3 linked regions of the Homo sapiens genome follow. The protein of the gene in region 1 purifies or fractionates together with the protein of each later gene. This does not show direct contact. Each region holds a gene or a part of one and is shown in the gene's direction. Other genes may lie near its edges.

Region 1 (3,750 bases):
GTTAGAGATCAGCCTGGCCAACATGGAGAAACCCCGTCTCTACTAAAAATACAAAAATTAGCTGGGTGTAGTGGCAGTTGCCTGTAATTCCAGCTACTCAGGAGGCTGAGGCAGGAGAATTGCCTGAACCCAGGAGGCAGAGGTTGCAGTGAGCCGAGATCATGCCATTGCACTCCAGCCTGGGCAACAAGAGCAAAACTCCATCTCAAAAAAAAAAAAAAAAAAAGAATATATTTGCTATATATGTGTGTATAGATATACACACACATATACATATATATACTCATATACACACACATGCATTTTTTTCTTCTTAATCATTCTCTATTAATGTTTCCAGTTCTTCAAATCACCTGAATATTCATCTTCATCTTGAATCTTTAAGTGAACATTCAGAAAATGCTAAGATGATTCATATAGTTTGGACACTTACTTTACTGATCCTACTGTTTTTCATGGGTCAGAAAGTACAGTGACTGGATTAATATTGAATTTCTGAATTAATAAAACAACTTCCTAATGGAAATTTTTCAGGGGGAAAATTGTTTGACATCAAAAGGCACCACCACCCAACCTCAAGAACAAAAGAGTAAACATAAACACATAAATAACACTTTCCTAGAACTAACAGTTATAGGTTAATTAATAGCTCTTGAAGATAAATGACTTCTATTGAATCAATAATATATCATTAAGTTAAGAAGAGAAACCAGGTGCAGTGTCTCACATCTGTAATTCCAGCACTCTGGGAGGCTAAGATAGGAGAATCACTTGATGCTAGGAGTTCGACACCAGCCTGGACAACATAGCAAGACCCTATCTCTACAAAAAATTTAAAAATAAGCCATCATGGTGGCATGCACCTGTAGTACTAGCTACTTAGGACGCTGAGGTGGGAGGATCACTTGGACCCCAGACTTTGAGTGAGCTAAGGCTACGCTCCAGCCTGGTAGACAGAGCAAGGCCCTGTCTCAAAACAAAACAAAAAACAAACAAACAAAAACAGTATAATCAATCCACCAATGTACTAATTGTTTTACAGACAGTTGGTGACATTATTCAGTTTGACATCTGACATATTTAAAAGCAATTCTAGCAACTTCGGGGAAAAAAAAATAACTCTTACCAGGAAATAACTAGAAAAATCAGCAAGGTGGAACAAGAATTAGGCCCCATTAATCACAAATACTGTATCATTTAGAGATATTGGACCATGATTTTTTTCAGCTTTTATCAAGTTGATTTTTAACATTTGAAAATCTTAATATTTTCCATTTTAATTTACAGTACATGCAGAAAACTAAATCAGGAACACACACATTCCAGACATTTTACAGACCATTTCATCATTGTTATTTAAGAGCTAAATTCACTGCCATCATCATCGTCATAATCATCCAGCAAACTTATTTTGCTACTCATCACCTTTCTAGATCTCAAACTCTCAACACGCAGGAGGTCTAGTGAGAGGGGCAAGTAAAAATGCTAATGAGACTGGGTGTGGTGGCTCACACCTATAGTCCCAGCACTTTGGGAGGCCGAGACAGGGCGACTGCTTCAGCCCAGGAGTTCAGCTTGGGCAACCGTGGTGGCACATACCTATAATCCCTGCTACTTGGGAGGCTGAGGCAGGAGGCTTGCTTGGGAGCCCAGGAGTTTGAGGCTGCAGTGAGCTATGATCATGCCACTGCACTCCAACCTGAGTGACAGAGTGAGATTCCATCTGTAAAAAAAAGAAGAAAAAAATGCTAATCAGCAGAGGGTGACACTGGTAATAAGAGTTTTGAAGAGAAATGCCCATGTAGTGGATTGGAGAAGGAGGCAGCCAGCGTCAAGGGAACAGAAAGGGGGAAGGAGTAGGGAAGAGGCATGTGCACATGACATGCCTAAGACATGATTCACCACTGGGGATTCTGTTCTGAGTAAAATGTTGATAAGGTGGCCACCAACCTTCCCTCAACACACTCACATTCAGGAGGCTGTCCAGAGCTTCAGGAAAAGGTGCTGGCTTGAGGGAAAACAGAAGAGGAAAGTAGGTAAGAAACAGCAGAGGAATGAATAGGAGAGAGGGGTAGTGGTCAGTGAAATTCTCAAAGGATGCTATTGAAACATACAGCTGTGCAATTTTTGAGTGAACTTTTTTCTGTGGGGGAATTGTTTTGGCAGGTGGCGCGATCATCCTGAATACCCATTTCATGATGAATACTGACTGCAGGGAGTTCCTGAACAGATTTTTCACTCCCACGAGTGCCAAGACGGTGCAATGGGTAGTCCCCTAGATGTGAAAATGAAGAGAGAGGGTTTTACCATCCTGAGAAGAAATAATGATGGAAACATGTTTAATGTTTGTGCAGTGTAAATGACTTTGACTCAGTCACATTGAAGTAAAAATATTAAAATCTGTTGAAATAACTCTTAGGAAATTATCAACTAATTTTTTCAGATCAGTATCTTCTAGATTCCAGACAGAAAAAAATTACACTTCAGAAAAGACATCAAAGGCAACATATGACAACAAGTAATTTATGAATCTGGGTAGTAGCGTTGGTAATCTGAGTTCTTTAAGGGTTAACAGGACAACGAAGTGCATGTGGCAGTGTGCTGGCAGTGGCCTTGAGGCTTTGGACCATTGGTTACAAAACAGACACAGCCAAGATAAGATCCACACACACATTATTAACAAGGAAGTGATTTGCTGCACCTTGAGTTGAGAGGGCTACATGTAGAAAAGTCTTAAAATAGAGCTAAACACCACAGTGGTCAACAAAGCCATCATAATGTTGGTGTTTGTTTCCCTCCAATGTATGTATGTTTAGTTTTTATCCAACCTGAGGAATGAAAACTTAACTGGATCTCTCTTGCATCCTTAAAGGGCCTGAGTCTCAACATGGCTGCTGATCCATACTTACACATCTTACTGTCAATCTTGCCTACATTGATTATAGAACCACTATTACGTGAAAAGGCTTGAAACAACCAACATATACAAATAAAACCCTGCCTTGTAAAATAGTAAAAGAGAAGCCATATATTGGCTTTTCTTCTTAACTTGGGAGATATATTGAAACAAGGTGCTTTATAAGATTATTGTACTTAAGACTTTAATAGTGTTACTTGGATAGCTTATATGAATTTTGAGAATTTTATATGAATTTTGAGAAAGCAAGTTCAAAAGAACTCTGGTAATTTTCCTGTATGTACAATTTAAAGAGTGAATAAGATTATTAGAATTCAGCAATAGAGATATATCTATTTTCAATTCAACTACAGAAATATATTTTATTGGCCGGGTGCGGTGGCTCATGCCTATAATCCCAGCACTTTGGGAGGCCAAGGTGGGCAGATCAGGAGGTCAGGAGATCGAGACCATCTTGGCTAACAAGGTGAAACCCCGTCTCTACTAAAAATACAAAAAATTAGCCAGGCGCGGTGGCGGGGGCCTGTAATCCCAGCTACTCAGGAGGCTGAGGCAGAAGAATGGCATGAACCCGGGAGGAGGAGCTTGCAGTGAGCCGAGATAGCGCCACTGCAGTCCGGCCTGGGTGAAAGAGCGAGACTCCGTCTCAAAAACAAAAAAAAAAGAAAAGAAATATATTTTATTCATTCACATTAGGTCACTGTCATACTGTCATAGGATGAGAGAGTTCTTCAAAAATTATGTTTTCCCAAGATCAGTTGCTTATAGATAATGTTCAATGACCTCAAGACATATATTTTTGAGAAATTATCATTTTAAAAAATTTGGTCTAT
Region 2 (3,750 bases), on another chromosome or scaffold:
CACTGCCATCTGTGGCCTGGGCACCGCGGGCCATGTGTGGAGACCCCGTTCCTCAGGGACAGCGAGGAGGGGAACAGGGCCTGGCCTCGCCGGCTCACGCGGCCCACAGCCTGGCCTGGGAGCTATAAATAGCAGCCGCAGCGTGGAGTTACCGCCCTGCCCACTCTCCTACGCATGAGTCAGCCTGCCCCGGCCTGAGCTGGTGCCCGGAGGAGACAGGGAGCCGGCCCGACGCCCTGCCCCACGCTGGTGGGTCACTCAGGAGACGAAGGCAGGCAGGCGGACTGGGAAGGGGCAGGGCTGCCGTCTGAGTGCTTGGGTGCCCAGCAGCCCCGTGTAGGTGGGCGCCCTGCCCATGTGTTCCCAGCAACCCTACAGGCGGGCAACAGTGACGTCACTCACAGATGGGGGAACCGATGCTTGAGAAGGCACTTCCCTGCAGGCAGCCATGTAGAGCAGAAGCTGGGATTTGTCTGCCCTCAGGGCTGTCTCCATCTCCTGCTGAGGGCACCCCCAGATGAGGGTCAGGGGCCGGGCCATGCTCTGAGGTGCTCCCGCAGGGCTGGGGTCAGGGTGGGAGGGAGGTGCACGCCAGGAGCACTCAGGCCGGGCCATGGATGCCAGGCTGAGAAGCTGGACCTTGGCCTGGGAGAAGGGAGCCATGGGTGGCGTTAGAGCAGGGGAGGCCCATGTTGCAGTTGGAGCATTGAGTGGCAGAGTGGAAGGAGGGCTGGAGGAAGGGGTCTGGAGGCCAGGAGGGGGAGTGGGGTCAAATCAGGGAGAAATAGAGCTCCTTGAGCCCCAAAGCCGCTTGAACCTCAGTGCCCCAGCCTCAGTGGCAACAGGAGAGGGGACTGAGTGGTCTTGGAGGCAGTGCCAAGTCTCCGCAGAGGCAGATGGGCCCACCTCATCCAGGGCCATGGAAATGGTGGGTCATGGAGAACCCCAGGAGCTGAGGGCCCAAGGGGTTCACCTGCTCACAGGCCTGGTGATGGGGAGCTCACCACCTTCCAGACCAGCCTCTCACCCACTGATGGCTCTGACTCTGGAGAGACCCCTGTGGGTCCCAGAGTTGGCCTCTCCACCAAGGGGCGCCTTCCTCTGACAGCCTTGCGGCCTGGGACTGTCCCGCACCCACCCCTGAGAGCACCTTCTGGCCTGGTCACTAGACCCCAAAGTCCAGTCTCCTCTGGGATCTGCCCGATGAGGCCAAAAGGAACCTCGGCCTCCCGGTCTCCAAAATGGAGGCGGAACCATGGTCTCTTGTGGACACACAGACGCATCAGAAAAGCCAGTGCTCCCCTAAGACACCTCCTGTTGGGGGAACACAAACATTTTCCTAACCGAAAACGGCAAACCCATCCGCTGCAGAGCAGCGCCAGCCCCCTTTGCTCACCCCCCACCTCCCTAGGCCTGACTGCCATGGGCTGCCTCCGCCTCCACAAAACCAGCCCTACAGAGCGCTGAGTCCGCTTCTGCCCCCATCCCGCCCCTGCCCAGGCCCCTGGGATGGGTGGGCCTCCAGGTGCACCCCATTGACCTGAACCCTCCCGCCTCTGCCCGCTTCTAAACCTGTTCATTGATTGTTGATTATCGACTTACTCATTTCACAACGCACCCCTCTGATTCCCCGCCCTGCGTGTGACCGGGCCCCAGCCGGCCTCAGGGGTCCCGTTCTGCACCCCCTTTATCCGCATTTCTGCCAAAGCCCTCCACCCCCGGCTGGACTCTGCTCCTCCCAAGCCGGGCTCCTGGCCCCCACTCGGGGTTCCCCGGGAAGCGGCCCCAGCTCCCACCCCGAGGGAGGGCGCGCGCAGGTGGCTACGTGGCAGGGCGGGGGTCCCGGATCCTGGCGACCTCTCCCACCCCGGGCGCGGGCAGGGGTCCCGCGTGGGGCGGCGGTGACCTTGGCCGGGCGGCGCGCCGGCCCCGTGGGCGCGGGTCCCCGGGGCGGGGCGGGGCGGGGCGGGGCGGGGCGGAGCGCGGGGCCCGGCGGGCGGGGACGGCGCGGGCGCGACTGCGGCGGCTCGGGCGGGCGGGGGGCGGCGGCGCCAGCGGACACCGGAGCGGGCAGGAGCAGCGGCCGCGGCGCCGCAGGGACCAGCGGGCCCAGGTAGGCGGCCCGGGGCGGGGAGGGGGTCCCTGCGCAGCCCCCAGCCGGCCGTCCTCCCCGCCGCGCGTCCCTCCTTTGTCCCGGCCCCAGCCTCCCGGGCCTTGGGGCCGGGCCCTTCCCCGCGTGGCTCCGGGGCCCCTCGCCGGGCGTCCCCCGTCCCTTCCCGCCGGGCCCGGCCGGCCCCTCCGCGCTCACCTTGGACAGCTCCCGGCCGCCTCCCCTCCCCCACCCGGAGGGCGCCCCCCTGCCGAGCCCGCCCCACCGAGGCCCACCCCGCCGCCCCTCTCCGCATTGGTCCCCTCGGGCAGGGCCTCCTCCCTCCTGCAGCCGCCTTCTTCGCCCTCCGCCCCGCTGCCCAGCCAAGCCCCTCCCTCCGCGCCCCCTCCCCGGGGTGGGCTCCTCCTCTCCACCACTGAGGTCCTCCTGAGTCAAGGGTCGCCCCTGGGCTGGCCCCGCACTGTGCCTCTGCGCCCTCGGGCCCCCTAGAGCAGGCCCTTTCTCCATCAAACCCCTCACCGGCCAGGCGGCCCTGGGTCAGACCCCCGCCCCACCCTTGGTCAGGCGTGACCCCCGCTAGACCCCTGGGTCGCGGCTCTCTCTGCTTTCCTGACCCTGAGCTTTGCTTTGACACCCCCGCCCCCACCAACCACGCCGTGCCCGGCCGGGAGCCGGGCTTCAGGGACCCAGGGCTGGGGTAGATTGGCCCTGCCTGGACGTCTGGGGGTGGGCTGCCCCGCACAGGCGGGAAACCCCAGGAGTCTAGCCAAGCAGGGTGGGCTTCCAGCCCCGCTGTGCGCCTCCACCCCCCTGCTCTGTGACCTTGAGCCAGCCCCTCCTGCTCCTGCCTCGGTGCCCACGACCCCCTCCCTCCACCCGCACCCCCCAGGCGGTGGAGGTGGGAAGTGGCGTGGGCTTCGGGGCTGTTGAGTGCAAGCGCCTTTCTGGTCAGGGATTCCAGACCCAGCGGGGAGGACAGTACTGCTCATGGGGGCTGGAGCTTCAGTGCCCGCAGCAAGGCAAAGGCTGGATCTGGGTCCACAGAACCCATGGCCATTAGGACCCCAGGCCGGTCTTGGTGGCGTCTTTCTGCACAGCAGCGTGCCCGCCTCTCAGGGCGCCCACCCAGGAAAGGGCAGGGTCTGCAGCACAGGCCGCCTCCCCCCCACCACCAGCACCCCCAGCCTCCTCCGAATGCCGAGAAATTACTATGCATGTAGTCCACAAACCCGGCAGCCAATCACATGAGTTGGCATTGCCGAGGCGCCCAGAAGTTTGCCTGGCTCATCACAACTGGGGACTGTGTCAGCTGGCGCTTTCATCAGCCTCTTTTCTTTTCCTGGCAAATCTGTTACCCTTGATAATCCAGAAGGTGCCTTTGCAACCAACAGGCACAGCCAAGTGCCCTGCCCACCGGCCCCAAGCCCTTGTGACTGTGATCACAATTGTGATCGGGGTCTCCGCTGTACAGGGCACTGCCTAGGGCCTTTCTCCACCTTGTCACCTTACTTGCCCCAACAGTGGCTCGCATTTCACAGAAGAGAAAACGGAGGCTTAGGGACTTGAATTTGCCTGTTTAGGTTCAAACCACTGACCCCCGGGGAACCTCTGGACCCTCCCCATAAACACACCCCCACCCC
Region 3 (3,750 bases), on another chromosome or scaffold:
GAATGTTGAAGGAGAAATTCTGATTGGAGTGGATTTGAAAGACTGGGGGCTAAGGCAATAGAGATACACAAAGAGACAACAACTCTTTCACAAAGTTTGTTGTAAAAATGTGCATATACATGAAGCCAGAGGGGATAGATGGGGTCAAGGGAGTATTAAATGGAAAATACCAGGGACCTGTTTTTATGCTGATGAAAGTAAGGCTTGAAAAGAGGAAGAGCTTGTTGCAGGAGTAAACTATGATAAATGCAGGGGTATTGCTGAAAAGTCAAGAGGGGATTGGATTCAGATGACAAGAAGAAAGAACAGCTGGGAATATAGAAATAGGTGCAGGTAGATTTGTAGATGTGCTTGGAAGAAAAAGGTGTTCTATTCTGGTATTTCTGATTTTCTCATTGAGGCATAAGTCAGAGTGGTAGAGTCAAGTTCATCATGGGGTTGAAACTGGATATGCAAAGAAGGTATGAAAATGGTCAAAGAGAATAGGAAAACGAATGTACTAAGGAAAATTATAGGCCCAGTGTTCACTGTTGAGTGGCAAACAAAGAATCGTGGCCATAAATTTAAAGTAAACCCAAACTGTTTGAGAAAGGAGATGGTTGGATTCAGCCAGGTTTGGGGCTTTGTGGAGTAAGTACTCTTGAGGGAGAGGGAGAAGGAGACGGGGCGTACGGGTATTTTTAAAAGTTGATGATAAGGCTGGGCGCAGTGGCTCACACCTGTAATCCCAACACTTTGGGAGGCCGAGGCGGGTGGATCACCTGAGGTCAGGAGTTCAAGACCAGCCCGGCCAACATGGTGAAGCCCCATCTCTACTAAAAATAAAAAATCAGGCCAGGTGCAGTGGTGCACGCCTGTAATCCCAGCACTTTGAGAGGCCGAGGTGGGCAAATCACCTGTGGTTGGGAGTTCAAGACCAGCATGGAGAAACCCCGTCTCTATTAAAAACACAAAATTAGCCAGGCATGGTGGCGCATGCCTGTAATCCCAGCTACTAGGGAGGCTGAGGCAGGAGGATCACTTGAACCCAGGAGGTAGAGGTTGTGGTGAGCCAGGATTGAGCCATTGCACCCCAGCCTGGGCAACAAGAGCGAAACTCTGTCTCAAAAAAACAAACAAACAAAAATTAGCCAGACTTGGTGGCGCACACCTGTAAGCCCAGCTACTCAGGAGGGTGAGGCAGGAGAATCGCTTGAACCTGGGCAGTGGAGGTTGCAGTGAGATGAGATTGCACCACTGCACTCCAGCCTGAGCGACAGAGCAAGACTCTATCTCAAAAAAAAAAGTCAATGATAGTGATGGATCATGAAATCTGTGCTGCATTGGGTAGGGGGATGTATGGAAAGACAGGTGTGGGTGAGTGATAGTGAAAATGGAAGGGGACTGGATCGGCAGTCTCTTGAAGTGGGAGCAGTGTTGTAGTAGGGTTGATAGAGAGGATGAACAGAAAGGTGGTAGGCAGGAGTCAGGGGAGGATCTTCAGAATAGTATTATTCCCAGAAAGCTTGATTCAGATTTCTAAATAGCTTGATCTGTTGGTGATTAGGTTGCATAACTTGGCAGTTTTCAAAGTCCGGGTCTTCAAAGGTTGACATACTCTAGTGTTTCTTTTAAAAAAAAAAAATAAATAAAGCTGTGCTGGTGTTCTTCCCTGTCGAATGCTGTAATGTGTAGGAAGTGTGAATAGGTACAGCCACTTTGTATAATGCAGTTTTGTACTTTCTAATAAAAATGCATATATCTTAACATCCTGGCAGTTCCATTACTAGTCATCAAACCTGAAATTGTCTTAGATGTGTACATGAACATTAATAGCATTTTTTTGTTGTAAAAAAGTGGAAGCCCTTCAAAAGGAAAATGAATAAACTTTGAAATATTCACACAGTGCAGTACTAATACAATAGTGTAATGACTGGCCAGGAACTAGAGTTACGTGTATCAACATGGATGAATTACAAACAGAATGAGTGAAAAAAACAAGCTGCAGGAAAATAGATGATAGCATTTATGTGCAGTTTTAAAATATGCAAAATCTATATCTTATTTAGGAATATATACAAAGAAAGGCTAGGAATGATATAACACAATTCACAAATAGAGTTTGACCTCTGGGTAGAGGAAGAAAAGGAGAAGAGATCTGGCAAGGAGAGAGGTTTGATTGAAGTGGAATGTACAGAGGACTTCAGCTCTATTGGTAATTATTTTTCTTAGGCAGGGTAGTAGATTACTTTTTTTATGTATCTGAAGTCATTCATTTTTAAAAAGCTATTAGAATTTCTCAGTTTCTTTTGAATTCATAAAATGACAGCCTTGGAATATGCAGGTCTAGAGTGTAGAATTCTGCAACTTTTGTTAAGTTCACAGTTTAAAAAGTAGTATCACTTATAAAGAAAGAGATTATTTTCCAGTGCACTAGGACAAAATTATCTCTAGTTAGAAGAGTTGGCCGGGTGTGGTGGCTGATGCCTATAATCCCATCACTTTAGGAGGCCAACGCAGGTAGATTGCTTGAGCCCAGGAGTTTGAGACCAGCCATGAGCAACATGGTGAAACCTCATCTCTACAAAAAAATACAAAAATTAGCTGGGCATGGCATGTACCTTTAGTCCCAGCTACTCAGTCCCAGGCTGAGGTGGGAGGATTGCTTGAGCCTGGGAAGTCAAGGCTGCAGTAAGTGGTGATTGTGCCACTGCACTCCAGCCTGGGCAACAGAGAAGGAAAAAAGAAGAGTTGCTGCACCCTTGCAAAAACTATGAAAATTCCCTTAGAACAAAATCATGGTCCACTGTGAGTTTTGTACCAGGCAACATACATAGTATTACCTAGTGCCAAGAGTTTGATCATAGAGAGAAGGGTTTTAACAAAACCAGGAGGCATAAGGTGAGCACTTTAAAAAAAGGAAAAAGCAAAATTATTTTTTGTCCTCTTCCCTCCTCCGCCACCCCAAATGCACCTAACTTTAAGGAATGCGCCAATGGTAACTCCAAGCCAAAATGTTTACTAGAGACTCTGTTCTGTCTTCATTTTTTTAGTAATATTTCTAACTCTTGTTTTTTAGCTACAAGGATGGCATAGTGGTGATAATTGACATCAGTAAGAAAGGAGAAGTTATTCATAGGCTTCGAGGCCATGATGATGAAATCCACTCCATAGCCTGGTGTCCCCTGCCTGGTGAAGATTGTTTATCTATAAACCAAGAGGAAACTTCAGGTAGAGATGGTTTAAGGGAAAGTTAAGTCCACTTGAGACCTGAAGAACAGAACGGGTACAATTATATCATTTTTTATTTATTATTTATTTTTGGAGACGGAGTTTTGCTTTTGTTGCCTAGGCTGGAGCGTGATCTCGGCTCACCGCAACCTCCGCCTCCCGGGTTCAAGCGATTCTCCTGCCTCAGCCTCCCGAGTAGCCGGGATTACAGGCATGCGCCACCACGCCCAGCTAATTTTGTATTTTTAGTAGAGACAGGTTTCTCCATGTTGGTCAGGCTGGTCTTGAACTCCCGACCTCAGGTGATCCACCTGCCTCAGCCTCCCAAAATGCTGGGATTACAGGCGTGAGCCACTGCACCAGGCCGAATTATATCATTTTAATTATACCTAAAACTTCAAATTTTATAGTTCAGACCTATGAAAGAGATAGCTAAGTTTTGGAAACTCTTGCAAACTAATTTTTTTATATTAGTGCGTGTTTAATGTAAATTAAAAACAAAATTGCCACCTATCTCATAGAAGAAGCTGAAATTACCAA

What was found.
Region 2: the proteins of AKR1D1 (region 1) and DIRAS1 purify together in Homo sapiens (affinity purification with mass spectrometry; 3 studies listed by BioGRID and IntAct, with this or other methods). This does not show direct contact.
Region 3: the proteins of AKR1D1 (region 1) and GEMIN5 purify together in Homo sapiens (affinity purification with mass spectrometry; 3 studies listed by BioGRID and IntAct, with this or other methods). This does not show direct contact.

The regions. Positions count from the first base shown.
Region 1 is NC_000007.14:138,114,454-138,118,203, forward strand, and holds part of AKR1D1 (aldo-keto reductase family 1 member D1), read left to right. Parts: intron 1-2,166; coding exon 2,167-2,209; 3' UTR 2,210-3,750.
Region 2 is NC_000019.10:2,719,667-2,723,416, reverse strand, and holds the start of DIRAS1 (GTP-binding protein Di-Ras1), read left to right. Parts: upstream 1-2,044; 5' UTR 2,045-2,113; intron 2,114-3,750. UniProt on the Homo sapiens protein: Displays low GTPase activity and exists predominantly in the GTP-bound form.
Region 3 is NC_000005.10:154,931,559-154,935,308, reverse strand, and holds part of GEMIN5 (gem-associated protein 5), read left to right. Parts: intron 1-3,058; coding exon 3,059-3,210; intron 3,211-3,731; coding exon 3,732-3,750. UniProt on the Homo sapiens protein: The SMN complex catalyzes the assembly of small nuclear ribonucleoproteins (snRNPs), the building blocks of the spliceosome, and thereby plays an important role in the splicing of cellular pre-mRNAs.